Regions from separate parts of the Homo sapiens genome. Here regions 2, 3 and 4 are each linked to region 1. Evidence: fine-mapped expression QTL. A gene starts in region 1. Each other region holds a variant in brackets. All regions are shown on one strand. Distances are between the middles of the regions. Region 1 holds the start of CTSC (cathepsin C). Region 2 overlaps CTSC (cathepsin C). Region 3 overlaps LOC101929174 (a long non-coding RNA gene). Region 4 overlaps LOC101929174 (a long non-coding RNA gene).

Evidence for each region.
Region 2: its variant is fine-mapped to the expression of CTSC in whole blood (INTERVAL, PIP above 0.99).
Region 3: its variant is fine-mapped to the expression of CTSC in whole blood (INTERVAL, PIP 0.95).
Region 4: its variant is fine-mapped to the expression of CTSC in blood mononuclear cells (TOPMed, PIP 0.94).

What each region holds. Positions count from the first base shown.
Region 1 is chr11:88,333,332-88,341,442 of GRCh38, forward strand. CTSC (cathepsin C) reads right to left here and starts at 4,405. Exons shown (of 7, transcript NM_001814.6): 1 at 4,170-4,405; 2 at 1,606-1,751. The coding sequence starts at 4,341. It overlaps LOC101929174 (a long non-coding RNA gene), which reads left to right and starts at 4,553. Exons shown (of 5, transcript NR_188511.1): 1 at 4,553-4,725. RefSeq lists an enhancer at 4,121-4,400.
Region 2 is chr11:88,300,110-88,308,220 of GRCh38, forward strand. CTSC (cathepsin C) reads right to left here. Exons shown (of 7, transcript NM_001814.6): 5 at 421-536. Among named protein-coding and RNA genes, the nearest start is that of CTSC, 34 kb to the right of the region's middle. RefSeq lists enhancers at 3,295-3,354, 7,372-8,111. The variant T/C (reference allele first, on the strand shown) is at 3,562.
Region 3 is chr11:88,380,089-88,388,199 of GRCh38, forward strand. All of the region lies in intron 2 of LOC101929174 (a long non-coding RNA gene), which reads left to right. Among named protein-coding and RNA genes, the nearest start is that of CTSC, 46 kb to the left of the region's middle. The variant C/T (reference allele first, on the strand shown) is at 3,547.
Region 4 is chr11:88,359,346-88,367,456 of GRCh38, forward strand. The region is part of intron 1 of LOC101929174 (a long non-coding RNA gene); the gene reads left to right. Among named protein-coding and RNA genes, the nearest start is that of CTSC, 26 kb to the left of the region's middle. The variant G/T (reference allele first, on the strand shown) is at 4,700.

The DNA.
Region 1 (8,111 bases):
TTCCCAACTGAATTCCACTTCATTCATTCATTTTTTTTGTAATAAATTGACTAGGTGTCTATTGTGTGTCAAAGAAGAAGGGATAGAGACAGAGGAAAAGAAAATGACAAAAAATTATGTACAAGGTTTATGGTACATGGTAACAATTGCCTTGAATATCTCTTCCTTTGCACATGCATTCCACATGCAATTGATTCTTAATCTGAAGTCAAAGAACCTTTGAAGGGCTGTGACAGAGTAACTGTAAGAGGTCTGCAAAGGCCTAGGCTCATCAACGTATACACCAAAGATTATTTTCAGGTTAAATATACCACATATACATTACAATTTTAAAAATTTATATAGATACTATTGTAAGTATGTTTTTTACAAAAAAAATGCGTAGCATCTGGAAATGATACTAAAAATAGTTAACAACTGGTTAAGCATGGGTTTCCACTAATTCAGTGGACTGGTGGCCATCAACAGCTAGCATGGACAAACTGGTTTCCACCAGCTGCATATCACACCAGCAAATCCAGTTGAGGAAAGGCAACCTCTTCCTCTCTATTTCATCTTTTTTTTTTCCATATTAAAGAAAGGTCCTTATTTTAAAAATATTTCTGGGAGTTATTATTCTAAAAAATATTGTAAACTTGCTTGGACCGCCATAACCTTGTGACAAACCACAACTCCCATGAGAAATTATAACAAGTTTAGAACTAGGCCTTTGTTGGTGCTTTGTCTTTTATCATATTTAACAGAGTTATTCCCTACTTTCCCACTTCTTCCCAGATGTTTTAAAGGCTGTAAACCTTTCACCATGAAAAAGTCTGTCTTAATTTATACTCTATGTATAATGAGAAACGCCTAGTTTCAGGCTTATGTATCCAATTTACTTGAACCATTTAATATTTAGCTTACAAGAAAAGTTCCAGCTTGTGAAGAACAAATGAAATGGGCTGCAATTTGTGCTAAACTATTTTAACCCTGAGTATGTTTGCAATTGGAAAAAGTGTGTTATGAGAATGAACAATAGTTCTTTCCTAATGAGAGAAGGAAACAAGCTGGGTTGACTTGGCTACCTTTCACTTTAACCAGCCTAAGGGAGTAACTCCTAGGTTCTCTCTTTCTGTTAGTTTAGAAGAAAAAATTACTCAACATATTTAGTACATTTAAGATAATGAATCATTTAGGCCTATCACTACCTCAGCCAACAGGTAGTGATAGGAAGGACAGCATAGTAACTGCAAGAAAACAAAATGTGTAATCTCTCTATCTTTCCTACAGATTTAGAACAAAGCCAAATGACTATGGCAACATTTAGAAATAAAGTGGTAGTAATAAGGAAAATAAATTAAGAATTTAGTCATACTTACCAAAATGTAAATTTTAAACATAATTTATACATATTCAAATGTAGCACTGGTATTTTGTAAACCTACTAAAATCATAATTTTAAATAAAGTGGCAAAATTATACCAACTACTACTACTCTTGGGAAGAGTGGTGTCAATTCCGGTCATCTTCTTAATCTAAAATTAAAATTCTGAGGGTCTACTAATCAGAAGAGGTTTCAGATATCAAATCATTGAAAATGTAAATCCAACTTCCAACAAAACTAACCTTAAAAAAGGCAAACCACTTGTAGTCATTCAACACAATCTCAAAGCCTTGGTTGTAAATGATGGTGAAATGGCCAGAATTGCCAAGGTCATCATATGCTGTATCCAGCTTCTGAAGGTACACCACTACTTTTTTTTCTTGTGGTCCTAAAGAAAAAAAAAAAAAGCACAATAAAGGAAAATTATTTGGATTTCAATAGGGGAAAGAATCCCCCAATTTCAATTTTAATTGTGCTGCTTTCCTTTCATGCTACCCAGTTTGAGCACAGTCTGCCTAGTGAAGAAACCAGAGGCTCCATCTTGTTGCCTCAAACAGTTCCTGCTCCGAGGCAAGACTGTGAAGTTAGGCTCTAAAAATTTGAGATAATGCAAGCAGAAGCAGTGGCTCACGCCTGTAATCCTAGCACTTTGCGGGGCTGAGGTCAGAACTTCAAGACTAGTTTGGGCAACATAGTGAGACCCTGTCTCTACAAAAATAATTTTTAAAAATTCGCTGGTTATGGTGGTGCATTGCCTGTAGTCCCAGCTATTTGAGCGGCTGAAGCTGAGGTGGAAGGATTGCTTGAGCCCAGGAGTTGGAGGCTGCAGTGAGCTATGATTGCACAACTGCATTCCAACCTGGGCAACACAGTGAGACCTTGTCTCAAAAAAGAGAGATATGCTATGCAGCCCAGCAGGCAGGGAGACCCCCAAAACTACAGTACCTTTCCAGAGCATCCCAACACTGAAGAAATTTTTCCACTGAACAAAAGGAGAAATGGGGAATGTTGAAAATTACAGGCTTCCAGAAACGGAGAAAAGGCAAAATGCTAGTCAAAAGTGGGAAATGCAAGAATAAAAGGTATGACAACAAAAAGATAAATAAACAGACTATCAGATCCTAAGGAAGACAATGTGCTAAGCCCAGGAGAAGACACAAAATGATCTATTCGGAGAAGAAATGGGGTACCTTTCTCCTCAAAGGCTCTACAGTTTAGAACCTCATAATCTGAATCCTTCCAAAGTTTATTCAGCAAACTAGAGGTCTGTATCCTATAAAACCAATTAGTGCTGATAGGAATGATACGTTTAACCTTCATAGATGAGGGCTCAGACCTGTGGGTGCCTTTAATTACTGAATTAAGGCCAAAGGTAATTTTATAGGCAGAGCCTTCCTGAAAATGATTCAGCTGTGTCCATCTGGAGAGTTGTGTATTTTAAAGTTTTTCCATGTTTGAGAGTAATGCTCTGACATGGGAGATTGCATGTGACAGGGCAGTGCAAATCCTGATCTCTTTCTGCCCCAACCTTCAAACTCAAATTTAAAAAAAAAAAAAAAAAAAAGGCCAGGCGTGGTGACTCCCGCCTGTAATCCCAGTACTTTGGGAGGCCGAGGCGGGCGGATCACGAGGTCAGGAGATGGAGACCATCCTGGCTAACACAGTGAAACCCGTCTCTACTAAAAATACAAAATATTAGCCGGGCGTGGTGGCATGTGCCCGTAATCCTAGCTACTCGGGAGACTGAGGCAGGAGAATCGCTTAAACCCGGGAGGCGGAGGTTGCAGTGAGCCGAGATCCCGCCACTGAACTACAGCCTGGGTGACAGAGCAAGACTCCATTCTCAAAAAAAAAAAAAAAAAAGTTACAATGTTCAGGATTATGAAATGCTATACAGTCAGTTAAAAAGGTATTTCTTTAGTAACAAATGACTTAATCTTTGTTCTGTTGACAAGAAAATTATAGCTGATTTTTTACTGACTCTGCAGAAGTCACAGGCTGTAAGAGGGTTTGGGTAGACCACAGTGTGACTCTTCTAACTAGTGATTGTCTTTTTTCCACCCCACCCCCTTCACTAGGTTCTTTGTTCTAGGGGTAACCATGTTATCTGAAGGCATATGGAATATCTCCAGTATGTTCAAACACTAGGTATTTATTGAGAGCCTTCCATGAGCCAAACATTGTGCAGACTCTGGGCATTTCTAATTACTAGGTTCAGAGTTAAGTTTTCTTTGTTATTAATTTTTTAAAAAATTTTTACCTCCTTGCAATGCATGAAACAATGCAGAGTGGTACTAGCCGTTTTCTAGTACTCATCAACACCCGCTCAAACCAAAATCGCTGGGCAGAAAGTCCCTTTCCCACCATCTAACAAAAAGAGAAAACTTCATGCTATATCCTCGAGAGTCTCTGAGCTCATCTATCTTCACTAGTAAAATAGTAATAAAAAATAAAAATAAATTTTAAAAATAACGCTACCAGATCGGACTGGAGAACCAAACGATTGCAGTTCCCAAGTCTCTCTCAAAGCAAACAAAATTAAGCGGGAGGAATAAAAAAGTTCTTGATCAAAGTGTTGAGTCCCCAAGATAACCAAGAAAGTGTGGAGTTAGAAGTTCTCAGCAGATGAACTTTAACTTCGCGAGCCTGGCGGGGAAGAAGGTCCCCAAGGGTCCCCGAATCCAGTCAAGATGCTCTGGCCACCCACAAGCGTCTGCCTGGGGGGAAGCGGTAGTTGGCGTGGCGCTGCGTTAGGGGCTCAAGGGCAGAAAGGACGACCCGGAGGACTGCCGAGCCGGCGGCTTACCCATAACCGAGCAGTTGACATCGCGCTGGGAACCGCTGGAGCCCACCTGGAAGACCCAGGTGCCCAGCAGGTCAAGATAGGTGCAGTTGGCAGGTGTGTCGCAGCGCACGGCGCCGTCGCCGGAGAGAAGCAGCAGGAGGGCGGCGAGCAGCAAGGAGGGCCCAGCACCCATGCTGCAGGGAGCTGAGAAAAGAGGTGAAGAATTACCAGGAAGCCGAGCGCTGCGGGCTAGCGGTGAGTCCACCACGAGGCGCGCGCCTTGAAATAGCTACGCCGGCCCGGAAACCCGTGGGCGGGGTCACTGAGCAGCAGGGGATTGGGGGTTGGGCGCCAGGCGCGTGCGCGTCTCTGAAACGGGGACTTGGGAGCGCGCGCTGCCCCTCACTTGGCTGCAACTGGACCCAGAACTAGGGAAGAGGCCAGGGACAGATTTTTTTTTTTTATTTTTATTTTTTTTGCCGAGGGACGTTTCAAAATTTTGCACGGCCAGGGTGACAAAAAGAGGATTTAAGAGCCACAAGCGGTCCGCACATGACCCAGACTTCGTTCCTGTGCGGTAACGTAGGGAGAGAAGGAAAGGGTGTGGGGGGAATAAGGGAGTGGGTCAGGTGAAAGAGCGCGACAGAGGGAGAGATCTAGCAAGTGGAGTTCTGTTTTACTTGCTATTCTTCCCCTTTAGTCTTTTTTCTCAGGTCCACTTGCCTCATAACCAACTTCTTGTTTTTTCCTCTGAAAAACTTCGCTAGCTAACATCAACTATTCCAGCTGTTTGAGAACTTATCTTCCTTCCGTTTTCCAACTCTTCCTACTTTTTTATGTGCTTGATTTTGTTTTGTTTCCTGGTAAATGCTGTTTGCCTGTTTGCATTCAGCAGAATTCAGTTTTTGTGCAAACCTGCAGTTTTGATGTATTAGCGTTGTGGGGGTTTTCCCTCTGGCACGCACACACATGGCGCTCTCAGAGATGATATTGCTCAACCCCTTTTATGTTACAGAGGAAAAGCAAGAGGCCCAGAGAGAGGAAGCGGCTTGCCCAGGGTGAGAAGGGTGAGGAAGGAAGCTAGCCAATGGGAGAAGGCTGGTCTTATGAACCGTTCTAGTGTGTCAGTCTGATCGCCAAAAATTATTAGGTGGCACTATTTCCAGGTGCCTCCTTGCTCAGTTTAAGTATCACCCTTTTCCGTAAGAGCCTCCCGTTCTTTCCTGGCTTTTGTTGGTAATTGGGGCTCCTTTCTCCCACTGAGCCTACTAGGTGTCAGGCCCTGTGGACACAGTGATGAACAAGACAGACCTGATGTGTCCCCGTTTTCTTTGGGATATGAATTTTTGCCCCCTTTGCACTGGTCACAAATCAATATTCATATGTCCATTTTTTTTCCACCAGATTATAAACATTCAAAGAGAGCAGGTCCAAATTATTCACTTATATCTCCCTAGATTCTGGTTTATTCAGAAAGTGTCCTTGAGTGTTAAAATAAGTGTACTTAATATTCTTATCTTGGTTGCCAAGCTTGAAAGCCAGTTTCAATGAGGCAAAAGGAGTTGTCCTTGAAAGTTCAGAGGTGAAAATACTCTTCAATGGGGGCACAAATTTCCAAAGCCTGGGGCGGGGTTGGTGGCGGGGGGTTGGGGAACACCTTGCTTTTAGGTTTTATATACCTTCTTAGAATTGAAAGCTGACATTGTATAATTAAGCTAACACACTATTTATTTAAAGATACCCTGACAGATTAAGCTTCCCTTCCTGAATCTCTAGGAAGGTGTGTTACTGATTGTTAAAACATTAAATTTGTATTAGGTCATCAATATTGAAGAGCCAGTTTAGGTGGAAATTTCTTTGATGAATGTAATCAAAGCAACACACTTAATTGTAAAGAAAGTTTAAAACAGTCTTTATTCAATGATTGAATAATAGAAAAAGATCTTGTGGACCTCTTAGTCTAATGGATTCATTTTAAAATTGGGAAATGGAGATTCAGAGAGTTAAATCACTTGCTGAATGTCATATTGCCACTTAGTAAGATTTAAGAATGAACCTCAGGCACATTGATTTTCAGTTTAGTTTATTTCTACTAATCTAATAATTCCCATACTGTTCTCTCTCAAAAATAACTACTAACTCTCCATTCCACGCACACACAAAAAATTGATTCTCAAACTGATCAGACCCCAAATCCTTTACTTTCTGAAATGAAATTAATATATAAACTGCTTACACACTTAATAAAAAGAAATGTAATGCCAAATGTAATATAAAGAAGAAATCAGATATTTTAAATATATTTCTAGTATAATAAGTTATATCCCATCATGTAAAATGTTCAAGTATGACTGTGTTGGAAAACATAATGAGGCACTCAGATACTTGCTCTTCACACTTCTGTAACCACCCAATGGATTCACCTGGCCTGCTGCCTAGACAGAGCCAATTTATCAAGACAGGGGAATTGCAATGGAGGAAGAGTAATTCATACAGAGCCGGCTGTGGGGGAGACGGGAGTTTTATTATCACTCAAATCAGTCTCCCCGAGCATTCAGGGATCAGAGTTTTCAAAGATAATTTGGTGGGTAGGGGCTTGGGAAGTGGGGAGTGCTGATTGGTTAGGTTGGAGATGGAATCATAGGGGGTCTAAGTGAGTTTTTCTTGCTATCTTCTGTTCCTGGGTGGGATGGCAGATATGGTTGAGCCAGATTGCTGGTCTCAGTGGTGTCAGCTGATCTATGGAGTGCAGGGTCTGTAAAATATCTCAAGCACTGATCTTAGATTTTACAATAGAGATGTTATCCCCAGAAGCAACTTGGAGGGTGGGAGGGTGCAGACTCTTGGAGCCAGAGGCCACATGACCCCTAAACTGTAATTTCTAATCTTGTAGCTAATTTGTTAGTCCTGCGAAGGCAGACTGGTCCCCAGGCAAGAAGGGAGTCTTTTTGGGAAAGGGCTATTATCAATTTTGTTTCAGAGTCAAACCATGAACTGAATTACTTCCCAAAGTTTGTTCCACCTATGCCCAGGAATGAAAAAGGACAGCTTAAAGATTAGAAGCAAGATGGAGTCGATTAGGTCTGATTTCTTTCACAGTTGTAATTTTTGCAAAGGTGGTTTCACTTCTATGTAAAATTGTAGAATCGTGGTAAATGTGATAGGAACTTTTTTCTGAGAGCACAAATGATTTCTGATGAGTTATAACTCAAATACCTTATCAATTAATCACTCAAACACCATACCAAAGTTGTTGATGTTGGACAATTCTTGGTCAAATTCCCAGGAGAACAAAGTAGAATTTTCTGTTGAAGGTTTATCAAGAGGTTGCATTCCCAAAAATTCAGTATATGTTAAAATTATATAAAACAAAAGTGAGCTTATGTGCAAAACATGGTCTGTCAGTAGGCTCCCATCATTAAAAGCAGGTTTACAGAGAGGCAGCATTACTTGGCAGTGGTTCTCAAAGTGTAGCCTAGGACCAGGGACATCAGCATCTGTCTTAGTCTGTTTTCTGTTGCTAGAACTGTACCTGAGACTCGGTAATTTAAAACAAAGAAAATTATTTTTTATAGTTCTAGAGACAGGTAAGTCCAAGGTCAAGAGGCCCCATCGAAGGGGGCCCTTCTTGCTGGTTGAGACTCTTTGCAGAATCCCAAGGTAGTACAGGGTATCACGTGGCAAAGGGGGTCATGAGAGATGGCCAAACTAGTGCTTATTACAGACCCACCCTCATGATAACTAATCCTTGATAATTCCATAATCCATTAATCTATTAACCCATGATAGATTCATCCATTCATGAGGGCACTGCCAATCACTTCTCAAAGGTCCCACCTCTCGACACATGACTTTTGGGGGACAACCTATGTTCAAACCACAGCATTCTGTCCCTGACCCCCAGAATTCATGGCCTTCTCACAATTCAAAATACAGTCATTCCATCCTAGTAGTCCCAAAAGA
Region 2 (8,111 bases), 33 kb before region 1:
CATGTAGTAATTAATGACTAAATTAATGGGGGTGGGGGAATACAGGAACAGGTATCAAAGAAAGATTCCAACAAACCACTTGCAGAATGGTACACAATTCTTTGCTTCTACTAGAATCTTTCCTACTAGGAGGACAAATGAGTTTGTCTTACATATCACTCTGATTGTCACTAGCTACCTGGAAAATATATTGAGAAGAGTACTGAATAAATGCTAAGCTCAGTAGAAAAGAAAATTTTTTACTAAAGTTTGTCATGGATATAAAAGGAAAGAATAATTCATAGGCCACCTATTTTCTATTTCTGTAAAAAGGGGATCATGCCCATTCCATCTAGGTATCCCCGAAATCCATCACACAGAGCAACTGTTCAATAAATAGTTCCAAACAAATTAACAAAAAACTTAGGCTTATTTTTTTACCTTGGTTTCGAACAGGACTGACAAAATTGATACCATGAACATTTCTCCAGTCCCAAGATGTTGGCAAATGCAAAATCTTTTGCTGTATTTCAGCAGTCAGTGGTGCAGGTTTGGGCCTAGAAAGGAAATATACATTTGATATCAACATATAATCTTTCCTTTGAGGATGATTTCCTAAACTCTACTATAATTCTATGATTTCAGCTACCAGACTAGCTAGGATCTAGATTCAGACCCAGAGCACCTGTTTTATGAGTGATTCAATGTGTCAATTACACAATGGAGTTGTGTAAATGGCTTTCATTCGCTGTTTCTTTTTCAGGATCTAGTATTGATAATTTTCCTTTGTGAAATGACACTGGTTTTGTATATCACTGTGATGTTATTTTTAGTTTGCCTGAATAGCTGCATTCTTACTCATTTTTGAAAGATTTTTGACCAAGAAAGAGATGAGAAGTAGAAGACATAAGAAGGGTTTAGAGAAAACAGAGGAATCACTGATGTTTGACTTAGGAGACAGACACATTGGTAGTGAGGTGGCTGTAAAAGAAGTGAAGTTGGCAAAGGGAAAAAAGGGTCTATGTGAGGCAGGAGAACAGGTTCTGGAGGCAGGGAACATAAGGCCAATTCACACTGACTTCCTAGAACTAAATAAAGTGGAAACACTTCAGCAATGGCAGGAATGCGAAGGGCTTTGTCACTTCACTTCATCCTCTCCGTTTACATGGGCCACAACCCCCAGGAGTAACACCCTCTCCATTAACACAAGGCCTATACTGAGTAAATGACTTTGTAACTTAACTCCACCCTCTTCATTTACATAAGGCATACACCAGGTAACCAATGGGAAACCTCTAGACGGTATTGAAACCCCAGAAAATTCTGTAACCAGGGCCTTGAATCATTTACTTAGGCCCACTCCCATCCTGTGGAGTGTGCTTTCATTTTCAATAAATCTCCGCTTTTGTTGCTTCATTCTTTCCTTGCCTCATTTGTGAGTTTTGTCCAATTCTTTGTTCAAGAAGCCAAGAACCTGGACACCCTCAACCAGTAACAAGCATAACACAGGCTGACTAGCTCCGTAAACAACAGATAAAACTGTTTCATTATAGAACCACACCTTATATGACAGTGTTGGGCTGTAAGACACACAAAGGAGAGTTGCCTAGGCCCATGAATGAACGGACATTTTTGGGAAGTGAGAAAATTGTTCTAACAGCTTCTCTGTATTAGCGATTTCACACATACATACACATGCACACACACACAAACACACGCGCGCACACACACACACACACACACACACAGAGAGAGAACCACAGCTTTAGACACATTCGACTTCTTGGAGTTTCCCCAAGACTGCCAAATGGCCTCTCTGTTCTATATCTTTATGCTGCTGCTCCTGTAACCTCAAGTGCCTGTTGCTCACCACTTAAAACTCCCCTAAGAGTTTTTCCCTAACTTGTAATTTTCAAAACTGCTCATAAAGTAGCCTCCACTCACCAGCCCCCAGCGAAAACTCACTTCCTCTCTCTCTCTGCTCCTTCAAATTTGTTTTTAGGGCACTAGTCACAATGTGGTAAAAATTATTTTTTGTTACTATAAACTATTTGAATTTCTTATTCAACTGGGCATTGTCATATCACACTGTTCTAGTTTTTCAGTGGTTACCAGATGTTTTTTACTAGGCTAAAATTTAGTCAATGGCAAAGATTCTTTCTGGGCTACTTCATGCCCTCTGCACCTATCCACAAATGGTCCCGTCTCTCACAGCTTCTCTTAGATATAACACAGGTTAAGAATACATGACAAGGGGCCAGGCGCGGTGGCTCACGCCTGTAATCCCAGCATTGGGAGGCCGAGGCGGGCGGATCACGAGGTCAGGAGATTGAGACCATCCTGGCTAACACAGTGAAACCCCGTCCCTACTAAAAATACAAAAAAAAATTAGCTGGGCGTGGTGGCGGGTGCCTGTAGTCCCAGCTACTCGGGAGGCTGAGGCAGGAGAATGGCATGAACCCAGGAGGTGGAGCTTGCAGTGAGCCGAGATTGCACCACTGCACTCCAGCCCGGGTGACAGAGCAAGACTCCGCCTCAAAAAAAAAAAAAAAAAAAAAAAAAAGAATACATGACAAAATGGAACTGAGATGAAACAAAGAGAAAAACAACAACGATTTCTTCAAAAATAGCAATTGTAACCTTGACAATTGTATAGATTACACAAACACTAGTTAATTGTTCACTAATTTTTTCTCCTAAGCCAGTCACATTGGTTGAAGATATACATGATACAGAGATAAATATGAGATGGTCATTAACAATATGGAAGACAATGTTAAGAGACATAATATACACAAAGATTACTATAACAAGTTACAGTAATGCTATAAAACACACAATTTGGACAAAGTCTATATAATCAAGGATCATAAAAATCTGTGCCTCATAGGTAATTTTATATATAGGGTGAGAGAAAAAACAAAGCTTGGACATTTCTTCTAAGATGTATAAATAAAAACTAAGATGCAAACAAACCATTTCCATCTTTGAATGGAAATAGTTTCTGTGGTTTCACATTGAGAGAGTATGTTGAAGAAGAAACTCAATTTTTTTTTAATTCTCTCACTGAACACTATCAACTGTCAACACAAAAGACTTCTGTGATCAAATGCATGTGGGTTTTTCCCCACAAATCAAGCAAGCAACCAATTTCACAGTGAATACTAGCTGGGTGTCCTCCAATCCAGTTTTGACACTGTGTACTTAGAGATGGCATCAGATCTCACAGGCTGAGGGCTCCGTCCCACAAAACTGCCCCCTACTTCTCATGCCAATTGAAAGCCCTAGGTTGTTTACCTGTGCTTCTGGCCAACCAGCTATAATGTGGGGATCCTATGACACCCTCCTTGGGTTCAATTAATTTGCTAGAGTGACTCACAGAACTCAGAGAAATACTAACTAATGTTTAGTGGTTTATTATAAAAGATACTACAAATGAAACAGATGAAGAAATGAGTAGGGCAAGGTATGGGGGAAGGGGCACACAGCTTCCATGCCCTCCCTGAACACGCCACCCTCCAGGAACTTCCACTTGTTCAGCTATCTGGAAGCTCTCTGCACCCTGTCCTTGTGAGCCTTATA[T/C]GGGGACTTCATCAAATAGGCACAACTGACAACCATGTAGAGATGTGACTGGACATAAAGGGAATGATGTAAACACAGCAAGGCCTGTCCAGATTCTTCTGAGCCTCTCTCTGTTCAGTGTTCCTTCCTTTAGGGTATGACACAGGACATCTTTGGAAATGAAGGTCTTATGACCCAAGATCAGAAAGGCAGGAGAAGATTAGAGTGCTGCCCTGGGCAGGTGAGAGGAGGGCGGAAGAAGATCAGAGAGAGAGAGAGAGAGAGACTCTGTTTTCTGAGGCCTACTTCTGAGGCCTAATGTGCCCCAACGTTAAAAGATAGTGACAAGGGCTATGGGAGTTATGAGCCAGGAACTGTGGACAAAATCTAGTATGTGTTAACTAGTTGTCTTGTTTAAACCTAAGAATATACTAATATAAAGGATAAAAAAGAAATTTAAGTTTGGCAGCATAATGTAATTTCAGGGCATATGATTTTATCACTTACTATCTGTGTAACATTTGGCAAGGAACCTAACATTACAAAACTACAGTTCACTTCTATTAAAGTGGGTATAATCATGCTTACCTCAAAGGGTTGTTATGAAAATTCAATGTAATAATGGGTAACAAGTGCTTAGAACAGTGTTTTTCTCTGATAAGTCCTTAATAAAATGGCAGCTGTTATGAAGATAACATTCATATCATTAACAGGACTAAATAAGATGCTGATACAGTTTAAAGCAATTATCTGGCACAAAACAGTCATTACAATATTAAGTTCCTTTTTTCTACCATCCTATAAGGCAGAGATTTGCCCATCATTGCACACACAAACAAAACAAAAACAGTGTGAGAACTGAGGCTTAATGATGTTGTCAAAGGTGTTTGACCCAGAGCAACTCCATCTTGAATAGGAGCTGGGTAAGATGAGGCTGAGACCTACTGGGCTGCATTCCCAGACAGTTAAGGCATTCTAAGTCATAGAATGAGATAGGAGGTCAGCACAAGATTCAGGTCATAAAGACCTTGCTGATAGAACAGACAGGCTGCAGTAAAGAAGCCAGCTAAAACCCACCAAAACCAAGATGGCGATGAGAGTGACCTCTGGTCTTCCTCACTGCTACACTCCCACCAGCACCATGACAGTTTAAGAATGCCATGACAGGCCAGGTTTGGTGGCTCACATCTGTAATTGCAGCACTTTGGGAGGCCAAGGTAGGCAGATCACCTGAAGTCAGGAGTTCAAGACCAGCCTGGCCAACATGGCAAAACCCTGTTTCAACTAAAAATACAAAAATTGGCTGGGCATGGTGGGTCATGCCTGTAATCCCAGCTACTTGGGAGGCTGAGGCAGGAGAATCATTTAAACCCAGGAGGCAGAGGTTGCAGTGAGCCAAGATTGCTTTACCGCACTCCAGCCTGGACAACACAGTGAGACTCTGTCAAAAAAAAAAAAGAATGCCATGACAATGTCAGGAAGTTACCCTCTATGGTCTAAAAAGGGGAGGCATGAATAATCCATCCCTTGTTTAGCATACAATCAAGAAATAACCATAAAAATGGACAACCAGCTGCCCTCAGGGCTGCTCTGTCTATGGAGTAGCCATTCTTTTATTCCTTTACTTTCTTAATAAACTTGCTTTCACTTTGCATTGAGGACTCGCCCTAAATTCTTTCTTGCACAAGATCCAAGAGCCCTCTCTTGGGGTCTGGATCAGGACCCCTTTCCAGTAACACTGTGAAAATGAAGAGAGAGCAAGAGGAGTCTGGGGGATAAAAAGGTGAGAATTACAAACATTTTGAGTACAAGATACAGGATTGGCTCTTAATCTTTTGGCCCACATTCTTTACAAATCTAGTGAAAGCTCTAGATTCAGAAATGCTCATAAACAATAAATGCTGTCTGTAATTTCAGCAGTTTCAAAGACTCCCTATATCTCAAGTTAAGAATCTTTGAGAGTTTCTATTACGTCATTGGATTCTTAGAACAGAACTAATTTATAAACAAAAATGCTAGTGAAAAATCAGGAAGCCAGATTATAATATCTGCTTTCATATTTCCTACTTCACTCAATTCCATCTCCTTATCTTAAACCTTCTATAAAGCTTTAGTCATGAAAACAGTCCTTCATAAACCCAGCCCTTGTCTAAAACAAAAGTGGTTGGCTGGAGGGAGAAGGGAGCTTTAGCAGGAGTCCTCAGAAACATAGCATATGACACTTGGTAAAGCAGCTGTGACTGAGGCTCCCATCTTTCAGGCAGGAGCCACAGTCTCCCTAGGCTCAAGTGCTAACACTCCTCCTCTTGATGCTTGTTTGGATTTTTGTTGTTGAATAGATCTCAGCTTCCTGTCTCATGCAGATACATTAAGACACATTAGGACTTCACTTTGGTGAATTTGAGAAGGGGATATGATATGCTCCGTTTTCCAATTTTGATTAACTAGAGCATTTCACAGACAAGAAATTCTCTAGAATAAACTTGGAGAAATACTGCAAAAGATTCTTTTAAGAAAGGGGTAGAATTATGGGAGGATGCCATCAGTTGGACAGGAAAAACCTTCACATAGTCTCACAGTTGAAAAATGCCACACCTTAGCATTATTAGTCTGCAGATGAAAAAGTTAGTAATGTTGATATGGACAGGAGACAGGGAAATACTGGGTAGAAGAGGGTGGTCCCTCAGCAAAGGCCCCACCCTCAAGCCTGAAGACCTAAGGCCCTAAGAGAAGACAGGCATTTCTGTTTTCACACCAAAAAAGGTGCCTTTTGGCCCGCCATGCCCCCCATCCTTCCCCCATATAAACCCAAAATCTTAGCAGGCACAGATACAAGGAGCTGAACATCCAGAGGAGCAGAGGAACAGAGCGGCACAGAGCTGTGGAGAGTGGTGGGACAGCACAGCAGAAAAGGAGGGAAGAGGTATTTGAACCCAGAGGAGAACAGGAACAAGTGGACTCCAGGGGAAGAACACCTTTCCCCTCCATCCTCCTTCTCTGGCTGAGAGTCGTCTCGCGGAGAGCCACCTCCACCACTCAATAAAACCTTGTGCTCATCCTTCCAGCCCACGTGTGATCCAATTCTTCTGGTACACTGAGCAAGAACTTAGGCTGTCACATTGGACCCCTGCCCTTGCAATAAGGCATGGGGTCTAATGACCTGATTAACACAAGCCATCTGCAGACGGCTAAGCTGAAAGAGCACACTGTAACACATGCCCACTTGGGCTTCAGGAGTCTCCAACATCCACTCCTAGACACTGCTGTGGGGCCAGAGCCCAAAAGCACCCCCCATGGCCTCTGCACCTGCCCCTCTGCATGCTCCCCCTAGGGGTTTGGGTGGTAGGGCAAGGGCAACCAAAGGTGTGAGAAGCCACACCTCTGTCATATGCCTGCGAGGGAGATAAGGGAACTCTCACATTTCAAAGTGTTTTAGTTGAGTAATTATTAATCTATTAGTAGTTTATTCAAATAATACAAATTTGAGCCATGAACTCTACAGATATTAGAGGATTAAACATTGTATTCTCTGAGAATTTGAGGCTATTTCAATGTATTAAGGAAAAATAACCTACCTATATAATTTTTCAAATTCTGCTAGCTCCCCATTGCTTTCCAATTCCTTACCCCTTAGTCACATGATCCTAAAGCAAAGTATGGCATTACAGGACTTATCCGTGGCCATTTAACAAATGTTAAGGAACTATATTAGATAGATGTAGATCCTAAGCTAGATCCAGCTATACTTTCAGAAAAATAATTTTTTTTTAAATTATCTAAATTTCTGACTAGACAGATTCAAAGTATTATGATATAATTTCCCAAACTAAGAAATATACCATGGGGCTTATGGGTAAAGATGAAAAATGCCACCTCTGGTTGAGAGTAATAGAGCTATACTGATAACTTTTTTTTTTTTTTTTTTTTTTTTGCTGGACATCAAAGCATAGAGAGGATTTTGAGATTTTTTTTTAGGTGGCAAATTTTACAGTTACTGTAGGCAAGTTGAGGGCTATTTGAGGCAAAGGGAACAGCACAAATGAAGATGAAAAATGAAAGTTTTCATTCATTGTGTGTCATATCGTTTGAAAGCAGAGCAAGGTGATAAATATAGTTATGGTCATAATTAGATGGGTTTGGATACCAGGCTAAATGTATCCATTAGGTAGTGGGCAGTAACACAGTCTCGTAATCACCCAACGGGTTCTCCTTCCTCACGGCCTACACAGAACTGATTATCAAGACAGGGAAATTGCAATAGAAAATGAGTTTAATTCACGCAGAGCCGGCTGTATGGGAAACTGGAGTTTTATTATTACTCAAATCAGTCTCCCAGAACTTGGTATAAGAGGATGAAACTAGAAGCATTTCATAAAACAGCTAAGAATGGGAACTGGGAGAGGTAGCGACGAAAGAGATGGCAGGCATGAAACCGCCTTTGCAAAAATTATACCAGTGAGAAAACTATGAGAGTGAAAGAGAGCTAAGCTAACCCATCCCCCATCTTGCCTTCCACTTAAATATTCCTGGGCTATTGGGCCAAGCTAACTTTGGAAGTCATTTCGGCTACA
Region 3 (8,111 bases), 47 kb after region 1:
TCTTTATCATGATTAATCTTTAAATGTTGTTTTTGTACTTCACATATAATGAAAGAAATTTACAGCAGAATATTTTCATATAGTTTCTCTAATACTTTGTGGTACTGTTATAAATGTTTATTATAATCTTCAGAACAGCTGCTAAGAAACTTAAAGTTATAGCTAATGAACTAATAATGGAGATAATATGAATATCATACTACCTTATATGTAGAAAATCATAAAGACCACCAAAAACTGTTAAAGCCGATAAATGAATTCAGTAAAGTTGCAGAATACAGAATTAACCTAAAAAACTCAGTAACATTTTTAGGCAGTAACAATGAACTATCCACAAAGAAAATTAGGAAAACTATCTCATTTATGATAGCATCAAAAAGACTAAAACAATTAGGAATAAACTTAACCAAGGAAGTGAAAGACTTACACACAGAAAACAACAAAGTATTAATGAAAGAGATTAAAGGCACAAACAAATGGGAACATATCCCATGTTTATGGATTGGAAGACTTAATATTGTTAAAATGCCCATTCTACCCAAAGCAATCTGTAGATTTCATGCTATTGCCATCAAAATCCCAATGGCATTTGTTAGAGAAATAGAGAAAACAATTTTAAAATTCATATGGAACCACAAAAGACCCAGAATAGCCAAAGCACCCTGGAGTAGAAAGAATAAAGCTAGAGTTATCATACTTCCTGATTTCAAAATATATTACACAACTACAGTAATTAAAACTCTATGGTACTGACATACAGACAGTTATATAAGACCAATTGAACAGAATATAGAGCCAAGAATTAAACCGACACGTATGTGGTTAACAGATATTTGAAAGAGTACCAATAATACACAATGGAGAAAAAATAGTCTTCTTAACAAATTGTGTTGGGAAAACTGGGTGTCAACAAGCAAAATAATGAAATAGGCTTTCTATCTTACACTGTACACAGAAATAAACTAAAAATGGAGTAAAGACTTAAATGTAAGATCTGAAACTGTGTAACTCCTGAAAGAAAACACAGGGAGAAATCTCCATGACATTGGTCCTGACAATGATTCCTGGCTATGACACCAAAAGCACAAGAAATAAAAGCAAAAATAGACAAGTGAGACTATATGAAACAAAAGGTTGTCTGCACAAGAAAGGAAACAATCAACAGAGTAAAGAGGTGACCTACAGAATGAGAGAAAATATTTGCAAGCCATGTATAAGGAGTTAGTATATAAAATATACAAGGAACTACTATAACTCAATAGCAAAAAAGTATGACTTAATTAAAATATGGTCAAAAACCTGAATAGATACTTTTTCTGATAGAGGCATACAAATAAAAGGTCAGCAGTTATCTGAATAGATGCTCAGCATCACTGACAACCAAGGAAATACAAATCAAACTGAAGTGAGATATCACCTCATACCACCAAACAAACAAAAGTTGAATTTTGGTGAGAAGGTATAATACTTGGAACCTTTTTACACTGTTGGTGAGAAAGTAAAATAATGCAGCTGCTATGGGACACAGTAGGGAGGTTCTTCAAAAAATTGAAAATAAAACTATCACATAATTTAGCAATCCTACTTCTGGGAATATACTCTAAAGAATTGAAATAAGGATCTCTAAGGGATATTTGTACTCCTGTATTTATTACATCACTCACAATGGCTAAATTATGGAAGCAACTGAAATACCTATTGAAAGATGAATGGATAGAAAACAATTGTGATTTTTTTTGCATACAGTAGAATATTATTAAGCCTTAAAAAAAAAGGAAATTCTGCCATTTGCCACAACATGGATGACCTTGAAGGACATTATGCTAAGTGAAATAAGCTAGTCACAGAAAGATAAATACTACATGATTTCACTTATATGAGGTATCTAAAATAGTCAAACTCAAAAACAGGTAGTAGAATAGTGGTTACCAAGGAGCAGGGGGACAGGGAGTTGTGGACTTGTTGTTCAATTGATATAAGGCTTTTGTTATGCAAGATGAATTAGTTCTAGAGATCTGCACTATAGAATAATAGTTATAGTTAACAATACTATATTATGCACTGAAAAATTGTTGAGGGCAAATTTTATGTTAAGTGTTTTTATCACAAAAAGGAAACCCACAACCAAACAATAAAACAATGGGACATAGGAAACTTTTGGAAATGGTGGATATGTGCATTACATTGATTGTGATGATGGTTTCATGAGCATATGCTATGTCAAAACTCATAAACTGTATACATTAAATATATACATTTTATTGTATATCAGTTATACCTCAATAATGCTATCTAAAATAAACTAACAAAAGAAGAACAAATTAAACCCAAAGTAAGAAATGGAAACAAATAATAAAGACAAGAAAATAAATGAATAAAATTAAATTGGAAAACCAATAGAAAAAACTAGTGAAACCAACAACTGCTTCTTGTCAAAATTCAATACATTTGGTAAATCTCTAACAGCAGGAGTTAGCACATTTTACTAATATCAGAAATGAAAGGACAGGAGGAAGCATAAATATATATTGTTCTAAATTTAACAGAATATAAGAAAATATTTTGAACAGCTTTATGTCAAAAACTTCACCACATAGATTAAGTGAACAAATTCTTTAAAAGAACGAAGTAACAAATTTCACCAGGAATAAATAAATAACCCATATATCCTTGTATCTACTTTACTTAGTTTATTTTTATCTTAAAGGTATGTTGAATTTTGTCAATTGTTATTTCTGCATTTAATGAAATAATCTTATGGCTTTTCTTATTCAGTCCAGTAATAGTATAGAAATTTACTGGTTGATTGATTTCAAATAGTAAACAAAACTTGAATTTTTTTTTTTTTTCTTTTTTGAGTTGGAGTCTCACTCTGTCATTCTGGCTTGAGTGCAGTATTGCCATCTGGGCTCACTGCAACCTCTGCTTCCTGGTTCTCCTGCCTTAGCCTCCTGAGTAGCTGGGATTACAGGGATGCACCACCATGCCTGGCTAATTTTTGTATTTTTAGTAGAGATAGGGTTTCACCATGTTGGCCAGGCTGATCTCCAACTCGTGACCTCAGGTGATCCACTGGCCTCAGCCTCCCAAAGTGCTGGGATTACAGGTGTGAGCCACTACGCCAGGCCCCAAACCTTGAATTCTATAGTAATCCCTTATTTGTTCATGATATATTTTCCTTTCTTAAAATACATTTCTGATTTGACTTGCTCATTTTTTTAAATTATTAATATTAATCTTTTTTTAAGAGTATCTTGTTTTGCTGCTAGAACAATGCTGGCCTCAAAAAATAAATGAGATGTGTTATCTGATATACTAATTTCAGAGTTTCAGGATAAATATGAAGAAAAACTCTAGCTCTTCACGGTCAAATGATTAAGAAAACAAAGGTAAAGGGAAAATCTTGAAGTCAATCAAAGAGAAAAGAAACAATTTCTACCAGGAAGCAGATATGAAATAGCAGACTTGGCTTCTGAAACGAGGCCAGACAGAAGACAATAAAGTTGCTTATTTGACATATGGAAAGCAAACACAGAAACAGCAACT[C/T]ACCACCTACAATGATGCCCTGTGAAAACATCTTGCAAATAAGAAAGCAATGTGCTTCTCAGACGACAAAAACTGAGATAAATTATTGCCAGCCAATTTGCATGAAAAGAGATGTTACAGCAAGATCTGGCAAACTGAGCATGATATCAGATGAACTTCTGAAGGAAAACACACAGACACACTCATGTACATGCATAGACACACTCATGCACATGCATAGACACACAAAGGCATTTGGACACAGTAATAATGTGGGTAAATATAACAGACTTTAGTTTTTTATATGTCTTTAAAATATAATTGCCTTTAAAATATAATTTACAATGTGGGTGTATAGAACAGATTTAATATTTGTAAATATCTTTAATATATAATTGAAATCTCTTTAAAATAAATTTGTCCTGCTGCTTAGGTTTCTCTGAAGCTTCAGGAACTCTGGTTTATTATCTTTCATTATATTTGAAAAAGTCTTGGCCTTTATCTCTTCAAATATTTCTTCTGCTTCATTCTTTCTTCTCCTCCTGAGATTCCAAGTATGTGTATATTAAATGATTTTGTCTGGTTTCGCAACTCTTCCATGCTTCTGTTTGCCTTTTAGCTCTTTTTTTCCTCTTTGTGTTTTAATTATCTTCAAGTTATTGCTGCTTTCCATTTCTCTGACTATTCTGCTGAAAAGCCTGTTGAAGTAATTCTTCATTTCTGATATTGTGTTTTTATTTTCAGCATTTCCATTTGATTCTTTTTAAACTTTCCTCCTTCCTTCTGAATATCTCCCATCTTTTCATGCATGGATTCACCTTTTCCACTACCCGATTCCTTCAGCGTATTAGTCATTGTTATTTTAAGCTCCCTGTCTGACTGTCAACCTCTGAGGTGTCTCCATGTCTGCTTCTCTTCATTTCTTTTCTTTCTTGAGCATATGTCCTTTTACTTGCTTTATGTGTTCCATAATGTTTAGATAAATGTCAGACATTGTTAGTAAAAGGAAGAAATTGAAACTAGATGAATAAAACTGAGACGAGGTGACTAAAATTTATGCCTGGAAGTTTTCAGTTTTTTCTTCTATCAGGCAATTTGAAGGGAAGGGTTGAGTAAATCTAGTCTGTTGCTGAGCTGGTTTTGGGCTTTTCGGTTGCTAGGTTCCTTCTGTGTACCACAGACTTCAAATTCCTTTAGTGCAAACCACCACTATCTTGTGCTTAATGCATGGCCCAGAGTGCTAGAGGCTTTCTCCTAGAATTCCTGTTCCACCGTTGGCTTTCTGTAGGCCTGCACTCCTAAACCACATTGGTGGTTTCTCTCTGTGCCCTTGCCCTTCCCTTAGTGATAGGCTGGTGATGTTTGTTACTGAGAGTAAGGCGGGAGCAGAATTTTCTTGGCTCTCCTGCTGCAGCCTCAAACTTACATAGTCCCTGTCCTAGTCCCTGTCCACAGAAGCCTCAGCATTCCTTTCTATTCCCAAGTGGCAGCCAATCCCCACCTTATACTCATGCAGGGCCTAGAGTACAAAATGGGCTTCTCCAAGTGCTCCTCCTCCACCCACACACCTAGCCAGGCGCAGCATCCCATGTCACTAATGCAGCTCTTTCAGGTCTCTGTCCCCGTCCCCACCTTTCTCATGAACACGTGATGGATGCACATGGAAAACAACTAGTGAGGCCAGGTGCAGTGGCTCATGCCTGTAATTCCAGCACTTTGGGAGGCTGAGGCAGGTGGATCACCTGAGGTCAGAAGTTCCAGACCAGCCTGACCAACATGGAGAAAGTCGGTCTCTACTGAAAATACAAAATTAGCCTGGCATGGTGGCACATGCCTCTAATCCCAGCTGCTTGGGAGGCTGAGGTGGAAGAATTGCTTGAACCGAGGAGGTGGAGGTTACAGTGGGCCCAGATTGTGCCATTGCACTCCAGTCTGGGCAACAAGAGCAAAATTCTGTCTCAAAAAACAAAAAACAAAAAACAAAAACAAAAACAAAAAAAACAAACTAGTGAGGGCTACTCTGGGCACACTGCCTGTGGGGTATCCCTGCTCTGCAAGGGGCAGTGAAACAAACAAACCAGTGAGAAAGAATGGGCTTCCCATGTATCTAGGACTCCCAGGGTATTAAATTCACACTGATCTACATCTAGCTTTTAGAAATTCATTAAAATATCAGTTGTATTCTTCTAACTGCTTTTATGATGATCATCTCTTCCTTCTGTGTGCTCCCAAATGTAACATATTTCATGTGTCCCATCTCTCATCAGGAACCCATCACTCCTTAGGATTCCATTTCCTTGATTGCTTTGTGATCTCAGTTCTCTGATTGGCTCAAATACAATTACAATTTGTAGACTTTTTTCTACTTTTTCTCATTGCTTGGGTGAAAGTGATGTGATTTTTCAGGCTTCTATATCCTAACTGGCTTATCTTGAAATTTTCTTGAAGAATATAGATCATTTAATTGTAGATATCTCTCAATTTGGGTGTTTCATATGTTTGTGTGTATCAGCATGGTATATGGCATCTATTAATCACATTACTTGTGACGTTAACTTTGATTCCTTGATTGCTACATTTCCGAACTGAAAATTACATTTTTTCCACTTTTTACATAATGTTGCTATGGGGAAATACTTTGTATATTTGTAAATATCCTATATTCTCTCAAATTTTATCCACTAGCTTTAGCAAGTATTGACACATTTTGCCTGGATCAATTATTATGCTGGTTGACAACTTGTAATTTTGTAATTTTATATTTCCTTATCCATTTCGTTATCCACTGGGAGGACAAACTTTCCATTTTTTAAATTTATATATTTACATATTTTATTTATATCAGTGTGAACTTAAGAATTCTTTATTCATGGGCTATAATCCTTTGCTATCATTATTTTAATGTTCTTTTTTTTTTTTTTTTTTTTTTTAATTAAGACGGAGTTTCGTTCTTGTTGCCCAGGTTGGAGTGCAACGGTGCGATCTCGGCTCACCGCAACCTCCGCCTTCCCGGTTGAAGCGATTCTCCTGCCTCAGCCTCCCAAGTAGCTGGGATTACAGGTGCCCACCATGACGCATGTTGGTCAGGCTGGTCTTGCACTTGACCTCAGGTGGTCCACCCGCCTCAGCCTCCCAAAGTGCTGGAATTACAAGCGTGAGCCACTGGGCCTGGCAGTGTTCTAGTTTTTCTAGGTTTGCCCAAGGGAACTGCTTAGAGCTGGCCCCTGTGTCCTTTGACAAGCCCTATCATTATTTAGACTCTTCGTACTTTCTGTTACTAAAAGATGTTCTAGATTCATCTTGTAGTTTCTCTGCTCCAGCCCATGAGCCAGTCATTTCTCCAATGAGTGCTCATTTCATTTCATGGAGAATGGTATTTAGAAGTCAAGATATGGGCAGTCATTTTTATTTTTAAAATAATACCCATAAACTAGGAAAAGACATGAAACAAATTGATAATAAGGAATTAACCTACAACTTGCCTGGAACATAAGAGATCCTCAATATAAGTTTATTGAATGAGTGAACAGTATTTAAAAAGTAGATTTTAGTAGGTAGTCTGCATTTGACAATTTTATCCAATCCCGCAGTTTTTCTCCTCTCCCCAAATCTCTTGCAAGAATAATTTTAATTCCCCTAAGTTTCAGATTTAAGTCTGTCACTCAGTTATTTAAATATGCTCTTATATTATCATTTGCACAAAATCTAAGCTTCTTGACTTAACGTTACAGCTCAGACCCTAATTCATATGTAAATATCTACGCTTCCATTAACTGTGTGTTCCAATGAGAATTTGCTAACAACAAAAGACGTCTTACTCTATCCCTATATCTTTCTTATATTGTTCCATTGGTTGAAAATATATCTACCTTACAGAACAAATGTTACTCATCCATGAAGCTTTCTCTGATTTCCTCTAGCTTGGAATGATTTACACATTTTCAAACTCATAAAATGATGGTCTATTAGTTTATTTATATTGGCTCATCTCTCACACTTCTCATATAAGAAGCATACTAGATTTGTATTACCTTTGCAAATAACATTTGGATAGATTGACCACTTACCACTTTGCCAGTACAGATGCATTATAATACTATTAGAACCAGCTTGTCATCACTTTGAGAAAAAAGTTCATTATTTTAAAATGATGAAAGTATGCACCTGGCCAGGTGCAGTGGCTCCTGCCTAATAATCTCAGCACTTTGGGAGGCCAAGGCGGATGGATCATGAGGTCAGGAGTTCAAGACCAGCCTGGCCAAGATGGGGAAACCCTGTCTCTACCAAAAATACAAAAATTAGCCGGGCGTGGTGTGGCGGGCACCTGTAATGCCAGCTACTCAGGAGGCTGAGGCAGAGAATTGCTTGAACCTGGGAGGCAGATTGGGTGACAGTGAGAGACTCCATCTCAAAAAAAAAAAAAAAGAGAGAAAGTATGCACTTCATTATCAGTTTTAACATCTAGAAAACATATTAAACATAACAGAAAGATGCACTTCATTATCAAAGAGTTTCAACATCTAGGAAACATATTAAACATGACAAAGATATGATCATATATTGCTTAATTCTATGATACACAACTA
Region 4 (8,111 bases), 26 kb after region 1:
TACCGAATGCACCCAATTTTTAATTTTATAAACATAAAAGGAAAGATTCTTATCCACCCAGACATGAAAAATCTAGCATTATCCTGAGCCTCTGCTTTCTCTTTGCAAATTACCCCTGTAGCAACTCAAGAAGCATTTATAGTAAGCAAATATCTGTTACTTTAGGAAAGCTTCGGAGTCAAGAAGCTAAGCCACCTTGCACAGCTCACAAAGCTGCAAGGCATGATCTTTCACTTGTTGATGAGTAGAGTAATTTTTAACATCCTTGTTTTGAAATAAGAGTAACTACTGCCTAGATGGATCCCATAGCACATAGAAGTGTAATGTGGGATGTGAGAGGAGGTGAGTGGCTACAGAAGGTGAGGAGTGGAAGGTGCACGCAAGCTTCAAGGGATTAGTAAACTAACACTGAAAAGAGGAAGTGGTTTCTGTAGCTACTGATAAAACCCTCATATGCCCTGTTGGAATACATATGCCACCTAAACTCAATGTTAATTTTCATTTCTTTTTCTCCTTTGCTTCATCTTTTCTTGTACAAATGAAGGGTGTGAAAGGGAGGAACAGAATGTTTTCACAGGGGGAAGTATTTTAAAACTTTTGAGTCATGCTTTCTTTTTCCTAAAAGTAGAGAATTTGACTATGTTTATTCTTTTAGTTTTGATATCCTGATATCACAGTTTTACATTTAAAAATGTATTTTAAATGGGTAGCCATAAAACATTTAAAAACATTTGACATTTTTAGAAATAGACAGAAATGGGCTTATTCAAACATGGAAAGCACAAAGCATCTATTGCTTTTTTTTTTTTCTAACAAGTGAACATAGCTAAATAGAGTAATACTGCTATCAGAAGTATATACTCATTGAATGCAAATTCAGTATCTCTCGAATGGGGTGAGGAGATCAAAGGAGGTTTTACTGAAAAAAAACTTAACCAAATAAGAAAAAAACAATGTAGGAATGGTTTTCAGTTATTAACTTTGCTAAATAATTAGTAACAAAAAATTACCCAGTAAAAGAATAATTTAATGTTTTACCATTATGTTTGTTAAACAATAACCCAAAAGCATGTTCACCAGTCCTGTATCTTCTTTCTCACCCCATTCTGACAAGTTTCTCAAAATGCATCAGTCTGTATATTCATCCCTATTTACCTTCACCCCTATTCATCCACCTGCCCCTATCCTTCAACCTCTACTGAAGACCAGGAGGAGAATTGTTTTTCTCCTCACCATTAAGCGGTACTGAGCACATCTGTTTTATCCTGCTGTAACCTCATTAACTAGCAATTACCTGTTGAGTGGATCAACTAATTTTGTTTTATAAGGTGAAGTGTCTCAAGCACAGGCAGAACCCGCCCTCCCCAGTGGAAAATTGAGAGCCCTAATGTTCAGCTCTGGTTTTTGGCTAAGATACCTGTTTTCATGAACAGAAGGCCTTCTCTGCATTTGAGCAAGGAAGAAGGGCAAAGCCAGCTCGAGCAATAATTGTCAACTTTGAATTCTCACTCTTTCTGCTCCTAGTCAGGGTTTTTCTACTCTCCCTAGCGGTAAATGATTTGCTTCTCCCAGGGAAAAAAAAAAAATTAAATTTAACGTGGGTCTTTAGTGATTGCATTTCAGACTTCCTTTTGAACAAGTACGTATTCTTTACTAATAAAGAAAAAACCCGGCCGGGCGCGGTGGCTCACGCCTGTAATCCTAGCACTTTGGGAGGCGGAGGCGGACGGATCACGAGGTCAGGAGATCGAGACCATCCTGGCTAACACGGTGAAACCCCGTCTCTACTAAAAATACAAAAAATTAGCCAGGCGTGGTGGCGGGCGCCTGTAGTCCCAGCCACTCGGGAGGCTGAGGCAGGAGAATGGTGTGAACCCGGGAGGCGGAGCTTGCAGTGAGCCGAGATCGCGGCACTGCACTCCAGCCTGGGGGACAGAGGGAGACTCCCTCTCGAAAAAAAAAGAAAAGAAAAAAACCCAATAGAAAAATGAACCAGAGATACAAATTAGTCGTTTAAATGAAATAAAATAATTCTGATCAATACTTCAAGATGCATATTAAAATATATATTAATTTTACCTATAAGATTGATAAAAATGTAATAGATTAACCATATCCAGTTTAAATGAAGACGTGTGAAAACAGGCACTTTGCTGTACTATTGATGGGTACAATAATAGAAATAGCATTTCCTGAAGAGGAATTTGTCAATGTTGATCAAAATTTTAAGTTCATGTGATGCTTTGACTCTACAATTCCATGGATAAAAGGTTAATTACAGTTCGGGCGCAGTGGCTCACGCCTGTAATCCCAGCACTTTGGGAGGCCGAGGCGGGTGTATCACCTGAGATCAGGAGTTCAAGACCAGCCTGGCCAACATGGTGAAACCCCGTCTCTACTAAAAATACAAAAATTAGTCAGGCATGGTGACGCATGACTGTAATCCCAGCTACTCGGGAGGCTGAGGCAGGAGAATAGCTTGAACCTAGGAGGCGGAGGTTGCAGTGAGCCGAGATCCTGCCATTATACTGCAGCCTGGACCACAAGAGCGGAACTCTATTAAAAAAAAAATAGTAAAGTAATTATAGCATTCTTATAATCATAAATAGTGAGTAATATGCAAGTGGTTAAGAAAATTAAGGAAAACACATACTATTGGCCGGACACGGTGGCTCACGCCTGTAATCCCAGCACTTTGGGAGGCTGAGGCGGGTGGATCACCTGAGGTTGGGAGTTCAAGACCAGTCTGGCCAGCATGGCAAAAACCCATCTCTACTAAGAATACAAAAATTAGCCAGGTGTGGTGGCGCAGACCTGTAATCCCAGCTACTCAGGAGGCTGAGGCAGGAGAATAGCTTGAACCCAGGAGGCGGAGGTTGCAGTGAGCCGAGATCCTGCCATTATACTCCAGTCTGGGCCAGAAGAGCGGAACTCTATTAAAAAAAAAAAAGGAAAGTAATTATAGCATTCTTATAATCATAAATAGTGAGTAATATGCAAGTGGTTAAGAAAATTAAGGAAAACACATACTATTGGCCAGACATGGTGGCTCACGCCTGTAATCCCAGCACTTTAGGAGGCTGAGGCAGGTGGATCGCCTGAGGTTGGGAGTTCAAGACCAGTCTGGCCAGCATGGCAAAAACCCATCTCTACTAAGAATACAAAAATTAGCCAGGCGTGGTGGCGCACACCTGTAATCCCAGCTACTTGGGAAGCTGAGGCAGGAGAATCGCTTGAACCCAGGAGGCAGAGGTTGCAGTGAGCCAAGATCGCGCCATTGCACTACAGCCTGGGCAACAGAGCAAGACTCCATCTCAAAAAACAAAAACAAAAGCAAAAACAAAAACAAAAACACATACTATGGAATATTTATGGAGTTGTCAAGAAAAGAATAAGAGCTTTAAATACAAACATAGAAGGATGGCCAAAATACATGATGTGCAACAAAAGTTACCTGGTAAGAGAATGTGTGTAATTTTATGTTTGTATATGTATTTTTAAAAAGTCTTAGATAACCAGAAAACTCTTAACAATGGTTGCTTTGAGGTGGGGTAGGAGGGAAGGTACCATGTTTGTAACTCTGTGTTCCAAATGTAACTTTCTCTGATATTCTAGGAGGCTACAATTTTTATTGCCTGCTTTTCATATTGTAAATTCAGCACAGAAAAATTTTAAAGCAAAATTTAAACTCTGTTTAAGAGAACTGTTTTGTTTTTCTATGTTCCTTTTCCCCCACTTCATATATTATTTGACTAATACATCTGTGCCATGCATCCTACTGGACAACTGCAATGCTGCAATGCATAGGCAAGCACACTCTTATACACACACACGTCCCTGGTCTCACAGAGCAAACACCCTCCCCAACCCCAGCCACACTCCCACACTAATGCCTCTGCTCTTACAGAGTTAACAGACTTTATCTGTGTACATATATTTGTTTACATTGCTGTTACATAGAACTTATGCCTACTATTATTTTGTGTAACATAGTATTTTATTATCTGAATTTAGTAATGATTACACTGAATATGCCATCAAAGAGAAGTCTCAAAATATATATAATTATTCCCCTATAGTTGGGCATTTGGGGTATGTACACCTTTCCCCTTTAATGGATCTGTAATCTAGTGAGTTGTTAGTGTCTACACATAAATCGTTGAGGATGCTAAGAAGAAAATTAGGGATGGGATCCCAGAGATGTTTCCTACAAATCCTCTTACCACACAGACAGACCCTAGTGAAGAAACAGCTATGTTAATACCTTCTGCTTCTTGTGTACCTCCTATAAGCCAAACACTTTGCATTTGCATCTCTTTTAATTGTCACAGTAACAGTACAGTACTAGTATCCTTATTTTACCAGTGAGAAAAGAGAATTCAGAAAGATTTTGTAAGGAGGAAATGACTCACCATCACTTCAAAAAGTCTCCTCTTATTAGTGCCTCCTTCAACTCAGGAACTTGATTAATGCTTACATAATCATCACATTTAATCTTCCTACAACTCCAGTCAGATACCTATCCTTATCTCAAATTTATATCTGAGGGAATTCAAAGAAAATAAAATATTAGGTTCATATCAGAGACTCTTCCTATGAGACACTCTTAGCAAGGGTATTGGGCAACATGAAGTGGTGATGCCATCTCACTGTGAGACTCCCACCCCACCCGCAATACAGGGTTGAGGCCTCTGTTGCA[G/T]GTTTTTCTTGATTTTCGTTACTGGATAGCCTCAGTCCTTCTTAGGTGAGATCATGCTGTTCTTCTTCCTTCATATATACCTAAGACTACTTTTTCCATTTTGGTTGAAACCAGAGAGATTATAAAAACACAGAATCACAGGCTGCTGAGGCACTTGATGTGAGGAGCACAAAGACAAAGAGGTGGCAAGGTGAGTTTAATGCAGAGGCTGAAAATACATTTATCTTTGACATTGTGTAGTGATAAGATCACCCCTGAAGAGAAGCTTCTGTTCCTTACACAAACACAATCCACCAAAGAGAGTTCAAAACTGCTTCCCTGCAATGTCTGGAATTTTGGCGTTCAACCTATACACATTCATTTATTAAAGAACAGTCTTGTCACTCATTTCAGTTGTGCCTAAAGATAGAGACAGATCCTCAGGCTATTTCACTTCCCCAGAGATAGGAGAGGTTGTGGGCATAAAATTTTAAGTTAAAAGATTTGAGTTAGAATCATGGATCTGCTTGTGATTAGGCTTTGGCAACTTATTACAGCTCTGAACCAGTTTTGTCAAAGCGAACATTAGGTTTTTCAAAAAAAAAAATCATTGTGAAGATTAAATACAGTTATTTAGCATAGGTGGCTATCATCATTCATCATCATCATCATCATCATCATTATTTTACAAGTCAAAAAAACTGTATATCTTCCATCTTGGGTTATGTGGTCCATTCTTTCTAATCCCCATATTTGGAATTACTCTCAGACATTAACTCATTTCTCATTTCCCCCGATTTCCTTGGGGTGTGCCCCAGTTCTCAGGGTCTATTTCTAGCCTTCAGACCCCATTACTTTCCAAGCTGCCAAGTGACATCCTGGGTGACAATGCTTCTGTTGTGCACCATCAGGGCCAATCTGAGCAAACCTCCCTTTCGTGGTACATTGACTTTGGCCAGTACCAAGAAAAGCTTTGGCCAGTACCAAGAAAGCTTCTAAGATTCCAAAAAAAGCTTTTCTGACTCCTGTAACCTAAACCTTTAACCTTCCAACTCTGCGTTTTCAAGCTTTCTCCCAACTTCATTGTCATTCATTTATTTTTGCGCAAAGAGTGATTTGCATGAAAATTTTGGGGGAATTATAACGTGCTATAGAAACATTGAAATTGCTATTATTTCTGTCTTCCAGCCAGCTGCTAGTAAATTCTTAGCATTAAATTATAATCATCAAAACTAAAAGCATGAAAAACCTCATTTACATTTTGATTTATTCTACATTTTTACATCTACAGCATACAGAGGTACCCTTTTTTATGTTTTGGGGGAGAGGGCTTTACAATCTCATCTTTATTGTAAAGCACTTTTTCAAACATGGTAGGACCTAATGCAGTCTGTCTCTCAATTCAGTAAAGCCTTCCTACATAAGGAAAACCAGGAATAAAGTTGGGCTTATTTAAGATGAATTAGATGTATTTAATTCTTTATCAAGAAAAGCAGTTTTATTGGTTTCAATTAATAATCTCAAATTTATTAATCAAGTGTTGACAATCTACAATATTTGGAAAATTGTTTTGATAAAAAGATACATAATTTATAATTTATTATGAGGCATTTCTTTGCAAGCAATTGCTTATTATATGTTCAAACCCTTTTTATGGGTCAAATAATGTCACAGTAATGTTATTTAAATTGTGTTTTGCTCTGCTACCTCATAGATACATTGAGTCAGTTGATAAATATTTGTCTTGCATATTAATAATAAATGTCAAGCAATCCTATGAAACATGAAGAAAGAATATGAACAGCCACTTAACATGAGAAGTAATAGAAATAATCAATAAACACTTTAAGAATGCTTACAGTTTGAATAAGAAGGAAAATTAAAATGAGGCCTTGATAAATGTATCATATTGCTGCTGCAGTGTTGGATCCTGTAGTCCCCGTTATTTGAGAGGCTGAGGTGGGAGGATCACTTGAGCTCAGGAGTTTGAAGCCAGCCTAAGCAACACAGCAAGACTCTGTCTCTAAAAAAAAAAAAAAAAAAAGAAAAAAAAGAAAAAAATTATATTGCCCAAAATGTAAAAGATTCATAAAGATTCATGACACCCAATGTTAACCATAATTTGAGGTAGCACTGTTCAATAGAACTTTCTGTGATGATGGAACTTTCTGTATCTGTGTTGTTAATTATGGTGACCAAAAACTACATGTAGCTAGCTATTGGTCAGTTAAAATATTGCCAGCTAAGTGTGGTGGCTCACAACTGTAATCCTAGCATTTTGGGAGGCCCAGGTGGGAGGACTGCTTAAGGTCAGGAGTGTGAGACCAGCCTGGGCAACACAGTGACCTTATCTCTAAAAAAAAGAAAAAGAAAAAAAATTAGCTAGGTGTGGCAGCAGGCACCTGTAGCTCCAGCTACTCTGAAAGCTGAGGTGGGAGGATCTCTTGAGCCTAGGAGTTTGAGGCTGCAGTGAGCCATGATCACGCCACATCACTACAGAGTCTGGGTGACAGGGCAAGATCCTATATGGAAATAAATAAATAAATATTGCCAATGTTACTAAAAATTGAATTTTTAATTTTTTAAAATTTAAATTTAAATAGCTACATATGGCTAGTGGCTTCTGTGTTGAACAGCACTGGTTTGAGAAAATAGGCAGTTCAATAAACCTTTTATAGTGGTATAAACTTATATACCCCTTTTAGAAAATAATTTGAAAAAATGTATTGAAAAAGCGTGCGTATTTTGACTTAGCAGTACTGACATTGGCAACCTGTAGTACAATAATACTTGAAAGTGTTCAAGAACTCAAATAATAATGTCAGCATAATTTGTGAGAATTAATAATTCGAAACCAATTAAATACCTTAAATAATCATTAATAAAAAAGAAGTTAAATAAATTGTCATATCTTCATACTATGCCATTTTGTACAGATATTTTTAAAAGTATATGTTAGATCTTCCAATACTGACTTGAAAAGCTATCCATGACAGTCTGAGTGAAAAAATAATTATATAGTCAAAGTATACATAGTATGGTAAATCAATTTTCCAAAGGGAAAAATAAAAAGTTTGTGCATGTGTATTTGTCTATTCATAAAGACAAACCCACCAAAGGGTGGGTTTATATACTGAAGTGTTGCTTGTATATTCTGAAAGCATATTTTCTTCTTGAAATTAAAAAATCTATATAAATATGTTAATTTCTTATTTTACACTCACTAGACCTTAGCCAGGATTCAAATTATGCAAAACTTGTATTCTATCTTTTAAGATTTTACAATTTTATAGAAAAATAGACAAAATATTTCATAAACAATTGTGAACATTAGAATGTTGACTACACCAACATAAGAAAGGGAGAGGATACATGACTCTACATTTAATCTCAATTTGGAATGGTGTTGCTAAGGGTAGTTGCAATGTTTGTG